2 linked regions of the Homo sapiens genome follow. The protein of the gene in region 1 purifies or fractionates together with the protein of each later gene. This does not show direct contact. Each region holds a gene or a part of one and is shown in the gene's direction. Other genes may lie near its edges.

Evidence for each region. Proteins that work in one complex are often made in the same cells at the same time.
Region 2: the proteins of FBXW2 (region 1) and MAP3K7 purify together in Homo sapiens (affinity purification with western blotting; one study listed by BioGRID). This does not show direct contact.

What each region holds. Positions count from the first base shown.
Region 1 is NC_000009.12:120,765,917-120,769,416, reverse strand, and holds part of FBXW2 (F-box/WD repeat-containing protein 2), read left to right. Parts: intron 1-3,500. UniProt on the Homo sapiens protein: Substrate-recognition component of the SCF (SKP1-CUL1-F-box protein)-type E3 ubiquitin ligase complex.
Region 2 is NC_000006.12:90,545,573-90,549,072, reverse strand, and holds part of MAP3K7 (mitogen-activated protein kinase kinase kinase 7), read left to right. Parts: intron 1-895; coding exon 896-1,026; intron 1,027-1,685; coding exon 1,686-1,815; intron 1,816-3,500. UniProt on the Homo sapiens protein: Serine/threonine kinase which acts as an essential component of the MAP kinase signal transduction pathway. Plays an important role in the cascades of cellular responses evoked by changes in the environment.

The sequences.
Region 1 (3,500 bases):
AAAGTTGCTAGTTTTTAGTGTTTGAATAATAGTTTTAAATAATAAACCTGTAAGATTGTTTGCGGGTAGGAGTTGCCAGGTTCAGATTTTTTCTCCGAAAAGAGTCTGTCTTGTGTCTGCTTTTTTCCTCCCAAACACAGATAAACCAACCTCTGTTGAAACCTACTACAAATCCTCTGGCTTCAGTTGCTAGGACCAGGTAGGGCTACTTAGCTTTGAAGCTAATTGAAAAGAAGCAAAGCACAAATAACAGCATGTTACTCAATAAGTCTGAGATATGATGTGATTGCTTGAGTTAGGTTATCTCTACAGCATGTAAGGTTACTTAGGTTCAAGGACCCAGACTCTGCACAGCAGGGATGTCTGGTTCCATTTCTAAAGTGATCAAAGTGAAAGCCACAAACCTGTCAAGACCTGTGCTCTATTCTGCAACATATTTGTGTTTCAGTCTTTGGAATCAGCTCATCTTCACAGATCTTGAGCCCTAACCCGGTAGCCACCTATTTTTTGTGTTCTGTTATGATGTGGGACCTACCAGACTTTCTAGCTGTTTTTCCTAGCCTCTTTTTTTTTCGTTTTTATTTTATGTTTTTTTGAGACAGAGTCTCACTCTGTCACCCAGGCTCTAGTGCAGTGGTGTGATCTCGGCTCACTGCAACCTCTGCCTCCCAGGTTCAAGCGATTCTCCTGCCTCAGCCTCCCGAGTAGCTGGAATTAAAGGCACCTGCCATGATGCCCAGCTAATTTTGTGTATTTTTAGTAGCGATGGGGTTTCATCCTGTTGGCCAGGCTGGTCTCAAACTCCTGACCTCAAGTGATCCACCCGCCTCCCAAAGTGCTGGGATTATAGGCATGAGCCACCGCACCCGGCTTCCTAGCCTCCTTTAGATCTCTTTTGTAGGAATTTGCACTTGCCTTTGTTTATTTCACCACTACTTTATTCTTTAGATATTCATTGAGCACCCACCTTTGTGTCAGGCATTGTGGTATGCATTGGGAAACAGCAGAAGTACTTACCAAACTCAGGGAAATTACCGATCAGCAGGATGGGGAAGACTGATGTTAAACAGCTAATTGCAAACAGGTTGTTTAATGGTTGGGTTAAGAGGAGCCTAGCCTAGTACAGAGTACTTTGAGGCCCTGCCTAGTTTGTGGAGTAAGGGAAGGCTTCTAAGAGGAGACATTTGGGCTGAGCTCTAAAGGGTGAGTATAAATGCCTTAACTAAGTACCAGGAGTGGGTGTACAGTGAGGAATTTTAGACTGAGACACTAGTCCGTTCGAAGGCCCTGAGGTTAAAGGAGCCTCAGGTACATTTGAGAAATTGAAGGAAATTCCTTAAATGCATCAGCATGGCTAAAGATGGGGGCACAATAAGGAGCCATCAAAGAGTTTAGAAGTTGAAACAAGGTGATAACATCAGGTTGTATGTGAGGTTAACTGATTCAAAGGGACTAAGTAGATGTGGGGAGGTCAGTAGAAAGCTGTTGGCAATAGTGCAGGCAAAAGATGGTGTCTTGGACTAGAGCTGTGGTAGTGCATATATTAGTGAACAAATTAGAGAAAAATTTAGGGCATAAAATCAATAGAGCTTGGTGATCGAATTTGTGATTTGAATGAGGAGGAGGAGGAGAATTGGATGGTTGCCACGTTTCCTAGCTTGAGCACCTGGGTGAATGAGCAAGTAAAGAAATAGAAAAAACAGGTTTGACTAGGAAATTCAGTATTGGATAGTTTGAGTGTGAGGAACTTTGTCTTATTCACTGCCGAAATCCTGGTACCAACATTGGCTAGCTCACTTTAGGCTCTTAGTAAATATTTGTTGAGTGAATGAATATGAGTCATCTAAGTAGAAAATGATGGATGAGTTATCAGTTATAACTCATTTGGAACACACATATTGGGACCTCTGATTCCCCTTTACTTGAAGTTAATCTGAACTTACTGCTTTCCCTGGGATCAGACTCCATCTTGTAAACCTGTTTATAAAGGCTGACACCATAGGGAGTGTTCAGTGATTGATTTTGGATGTTCTCAAACATGTCATCTAATCTAAATGTCTACCTCTTTTAGCAGAAGTTTCTTCCATTTTCAGTCTGGGAAGGTGAGCTTACTCTCTGCTTTTCAAGCAGGGGCCAGCACCTGTTAACTATTTTCTTAGTTTCATAGAAGTGATGTCTTGTTGATATTCTTAGTATCATAGATTTTTTTTTCAGATATTAATTATAAGAGAAACACATGCCCATGAGAGAGAATTTGTAAAATTTAGACAGGCTTTCCGTATTCTATCTATATTGCCCAGTTGCATTTCTTCTTCAAGAAAGAGAAAAAATATTCTTCCAGGTCCAGCTATAAAAGACAGAAAGATTTGCTCACTCCTTGATACTCCTGTTATATCCATTGGAGTGTTTGTGCTGAGCATGTTCTCACATACTCTGGCAGTTATATGCTATGCCCTCCCCTTCTAAGGGGCAAAGACTATCTTGCTTATCTCTCTTCAGGGGCCCAGCCAGCACTCAGCACCTATGATACTCAGAAAACATTTGCTAGGCCTGCATTATGTTAGCTGTATGACTCATGGCAAGATGTTTTAGTCTTGTTTACTGATATAGTGGAGAGAATACCTCTACCTAACTGCATTATGAGGATTGAGATAACACGCTGGGTGCAGTGGCTCACGCCTGTAATCCCAGCACTTTGGGAGGCTGAGGCGGGTGGAACACAAGGTTGAGATCGAGACCATCTCGCCAACATGGTAAAACCTCATCTCTACTAAAAATACAAAAATTAGCTGGGCGTGGTGGCGGGCATCTGTAATCCCAGCTACTCGGGAGGCTGAGGCACGAGAATCGCTTGAATCCGGGAGGTGGAAGTTGCAGTGAGCCGAGATCACGCCACTGCACTCCAGCCTGGTGACAGAGCGAGACTCCATCTCAATAAATAAATAAATAAAAATAATTAAAAAAGATAACATGTTAATTATGAAGTTCGGTGCCTTGCACATGTAAATGCTTGATAAATATTGAATGTCCCCCATCCTTCCTGATATGAGACTGAAATTGGCTCCTTTGTAACTCTTTGCCTCTGATCCTAGTTCTGTCTTCTAAAGCTTATAATGTCTGGGCTGTCTCTTACACATCTTTCACTATTCAGAAGTGATCCTCATATACAGTTACCCTATGCCTGCCAACTCTTTCCTTCCCCATCTCAGCTGATAGCCTTCAGCTGTTCTTCCTTGTCCTGGTCTCCAGGTCCTCCCATTCTGGTTGCTCTCTTGAACCTATACTAGTTTGGTGGTGTCCTTAAAACCTAGGCTAAACTCTCCTCCCACAGGAGCCCCACCATATGTCACAGAGCAGTATTTGTCTACTGCTTGTCTGGTAGCTCAGCTCTTAGTTCCTCCAAAGAGGACATCAGCTTTTCTTGTTAATCTTTTGCTTCACTAAGGGCGCAGACAACAGAAGCTAAGTTGTTTTTTGTTTTCCTTTGTGCTGCTGTTTAG
Region 2 (3,500 bases), on another chromosome or scaffold:
AGTTTTAGCTTTCTACTGGATCATTCCTAAAACATACGTAGTCTGTATTTGCATTCACTAGCTTCTCTTTTCCCCTTCTTTCTTGAGCTGACTCCATTCAGACGTATTATGCCAGTACTTCAGAATTGTTCTTGTCAAGGTCACTAGTTATCTCTACATCACTACATTTAAGGAATCATTTTCATTTCTCATCTTGACTCTCAGTAGCACTTGACCTAATTCATTACTTTCTCCTTCTTACAGACAGCACTTTCTTCAGTTGGCCTCCGAGATACCATACTAGCCTAGATTCCATCTTACATCTCTGGCCGTCTGTTCTCAGTTTTCTTTGCTGGTTATTCCTCATCTCCCCAACCTAGAAATGTTGGAGTGCCCAGGGCCTGCTCATTTGGCTTCTTCACTTATCTGTCTGCACTCATTTCCTTGGTAACCTCATTCATTATTATGGCCTTATATACCATCTGTTGGCTCATAATGTTTTCCATCTTATACCTGAACTCTATACTCATATATCCAACTATTTCCTTTACATCTACTAGAAACTCAAACTTAATATTTTCCAAACTGAGTTCCTGATACTTCCTTCAAACTCACTCTTCCTTTAGTCTTTCCGCATCTCAATTAATAGCCCTCAGTTCTTCTACTAGCTCAGGTTAAAAACCTTAAGTTATTCTTGACTATTAGAAGACTATTTAGGCATCTTGGTTCCTTTTTTGTGCTATCCTTAAGTTTCTCTTAAAATGGGTTTGTTTGGATATCTTCATTAGCTTGAAAAGTCTTATTTTATTTCTGTTCCTGCCTGGCTAGTTTATAAAAGAATGTAAGTTACATAATACCAAGTGAAGCATTTGTATTATTTCCAGCCATTAGTCATAAATGTTTCTGCTTTTCCTAGGCTCATTCATGGACATTGCTTCTACAAATACGAGTAACAAAAGTGACACTAATATGGAGCAAGTTCCTGCCACAAATGATACTATTAAGCGCTTAGAATCAAAATTGTTGAAAAATCAGGCAAAGCAACAGGTTTGTTATGTTATTACAAGTAAAACTGGTAACCTTACCAGTAGTCACAATATTATACTAACTGAAATTAATTATTTACCATCTTCTATTTTATAAATCCTGAATTTTCTTCCTGAAACATGCAAAAGAGCTTACAAATAGAGACACGTAATGAGATTCTCCTACCATTTATTACCAAATGGTTTTTCCTTCTAATGATTGCTACCTTTGCCAATTCTAAATCCCTATCTATAATAATCCCTAAATGTAATGGTTGATGGTTAAAAATGTAAAATGGGTATATTTTGGCTGCGCTGCCCAGTTAGAGGAGTTGTTCTAAGTCTATCATTTCATGCTGTTCAGATTTATTATATTTTTGCCATTGTTGATTTTTAAAAATATTTCAAGGAGTGAGTTTATTCATTTTGCCTGAGGCATTTAGGTTAACGAATAATTGGGGCTTTTAGCTCCCAGTTCTAGTGACTGCCTTTTCATAAAGACAGTATCTGCAGCTTGCTTTCCCTTACCCCTGTAGCTCCCTCTCGTACAAACTTCCCTCTCCTTTCAGAGCAGAACAGGATCTATCAGAATCCCATTTGCCATCTTCCTCCTTTTAGGTTGCCTAAGATTGCTAAATCTAAAGAACTTCAGTAATTCAGATTGACCTGTAATTTTAACAGAGTGAATCTGGACGTTTAAGCTTGGGAGCCTCCCGTGGGAGCAGTGTGGAGAGCTTGCCCCCAACCTCTGAGGGCAAGAGGATGAGTGCTGACATGTCTGAAATAGAAGCTAGGATCGCCGCAACCACAGGTAAAAAGGAACTACAAGTCTGAAGAGTGAAAATGTATATAAGCCTTTTTGGCCATGGTAGTTTCAGTTGTCAAAGGTTTTTTGTGTGTGTCTTATATTTTTTTTTAAATAGGAAGTAGGTTTACAATATATTTTTCTAAGTTACTAGCAATAGTTTATGCATTTATCTCAAATTCCAAATAAGGAAGGTATGACTTGTAAAATTATTTGGATGAGAAAGTATGCCTTCCTCATTTACAGATTTTATCAAATGTAATTCTTTCTGCTCAAACATGAGTTGAAAGTCTAAGTGAGAAATTGAAATTCTGCCAAAACCAGAATATTTTGGGGATTTTCAGTGATACTACTAGATTTTTGTGCTGAACTCAAATAATAGCAAATATTTTGTTTCAAATTTAACAGAAAAATGTATTCCAGATCCATGTATGATTTGACCTTCTATCTGCTTCTTCATTCCAGTGACAAAATAATAGCTAAGCTGGTTGTGGTTAATTTTTTTAATTGTAAAATAAAATATCATAATTTTATTAGATCTTGAAAAAGCTAGCATTTAAATTCCATTGTTCAGTTCTTAAAATTATTAATCATGGAAGAACTGGTCAGCACAAAAACAATTACATGTTTTGTTACTTAAGTAAACTGACAACCTAATTCTGTGACCAGGTTTCATTTTAGTAATGCTGGTTTAATTTGGACGTTTTTGGTTTTTTGCTGATTCTTTCCAGGGATCAGGGGGAGCTGATTTTAAAAGTAAACACGTTTCTGTTGTGGAAAATGTGGAAATGTAAACAAGCCAAAAAAACTTACATAATTACCCCACTCAGAGATAAACACTTAACATTTTTGTGTATTTACCCCATCTTTTAACTATGTATGTGTATAAATGTATATATTCATGTGTATTTGCATCTTTTTTAACTTAGCTAACCAATTTTTTAGGTCTTTTTTTCACTTATTTGGTTTTTTTCTAAATAGAATATTCTCATTGTGTGTGGAGCTCTTTTCAGAAAGAAGTTGTCAAGATGGACCATCATACTATACTTGTCTTCAACTAATCATGATCATTGATTTTATCAGCTACTATTAGAATCCATTAGATATAACAGAATATCCGAAATAACAGTGTCTATAACACATAAGCATTATTTTTCACATATAAACAAGTCTGGAGGTAGTGGGCTCTGTGATCTTGAAGTAACTGGTCTCCTATTTCTGTGCTGTAATCCCTACTGTATAGCTTCCATTCTCAAAGTTATCCTGTGCTCCAAAATGGCTGTTGAAGTTCCATTTCATCACTTCTACATTCCAGGCAATAGGAAGGAAGACATGGGGGCAGGGCAAATAGACATCCAAGTTCTTTGAAGGAACATTCCCAGATGCCTCTCTTAACAACATCCACACATCATTGGTCAAAGTAACATGGTCGAATGGCTACACGTAGCTCCAAGGGAAGAGGAGATCTGCCCTCTTTTATCTGATGACTTTTCTGTCCTAAATAAAATCAGAGTACTATTGCTAAAACAGAAGGGAAGAGTGGAAACTGGCAGAAGATAGCTGTGTCTGCCACAGATGGGTCTTCAGAAACTATCAAGTTGAGTAGAAGTCACCAGCCACTGACAAGCCCATGAGTCTCCATGAGTCACAAGTATTTCTTTGGAGCAGGGTTGTCTCACTGTAGTGTCAGA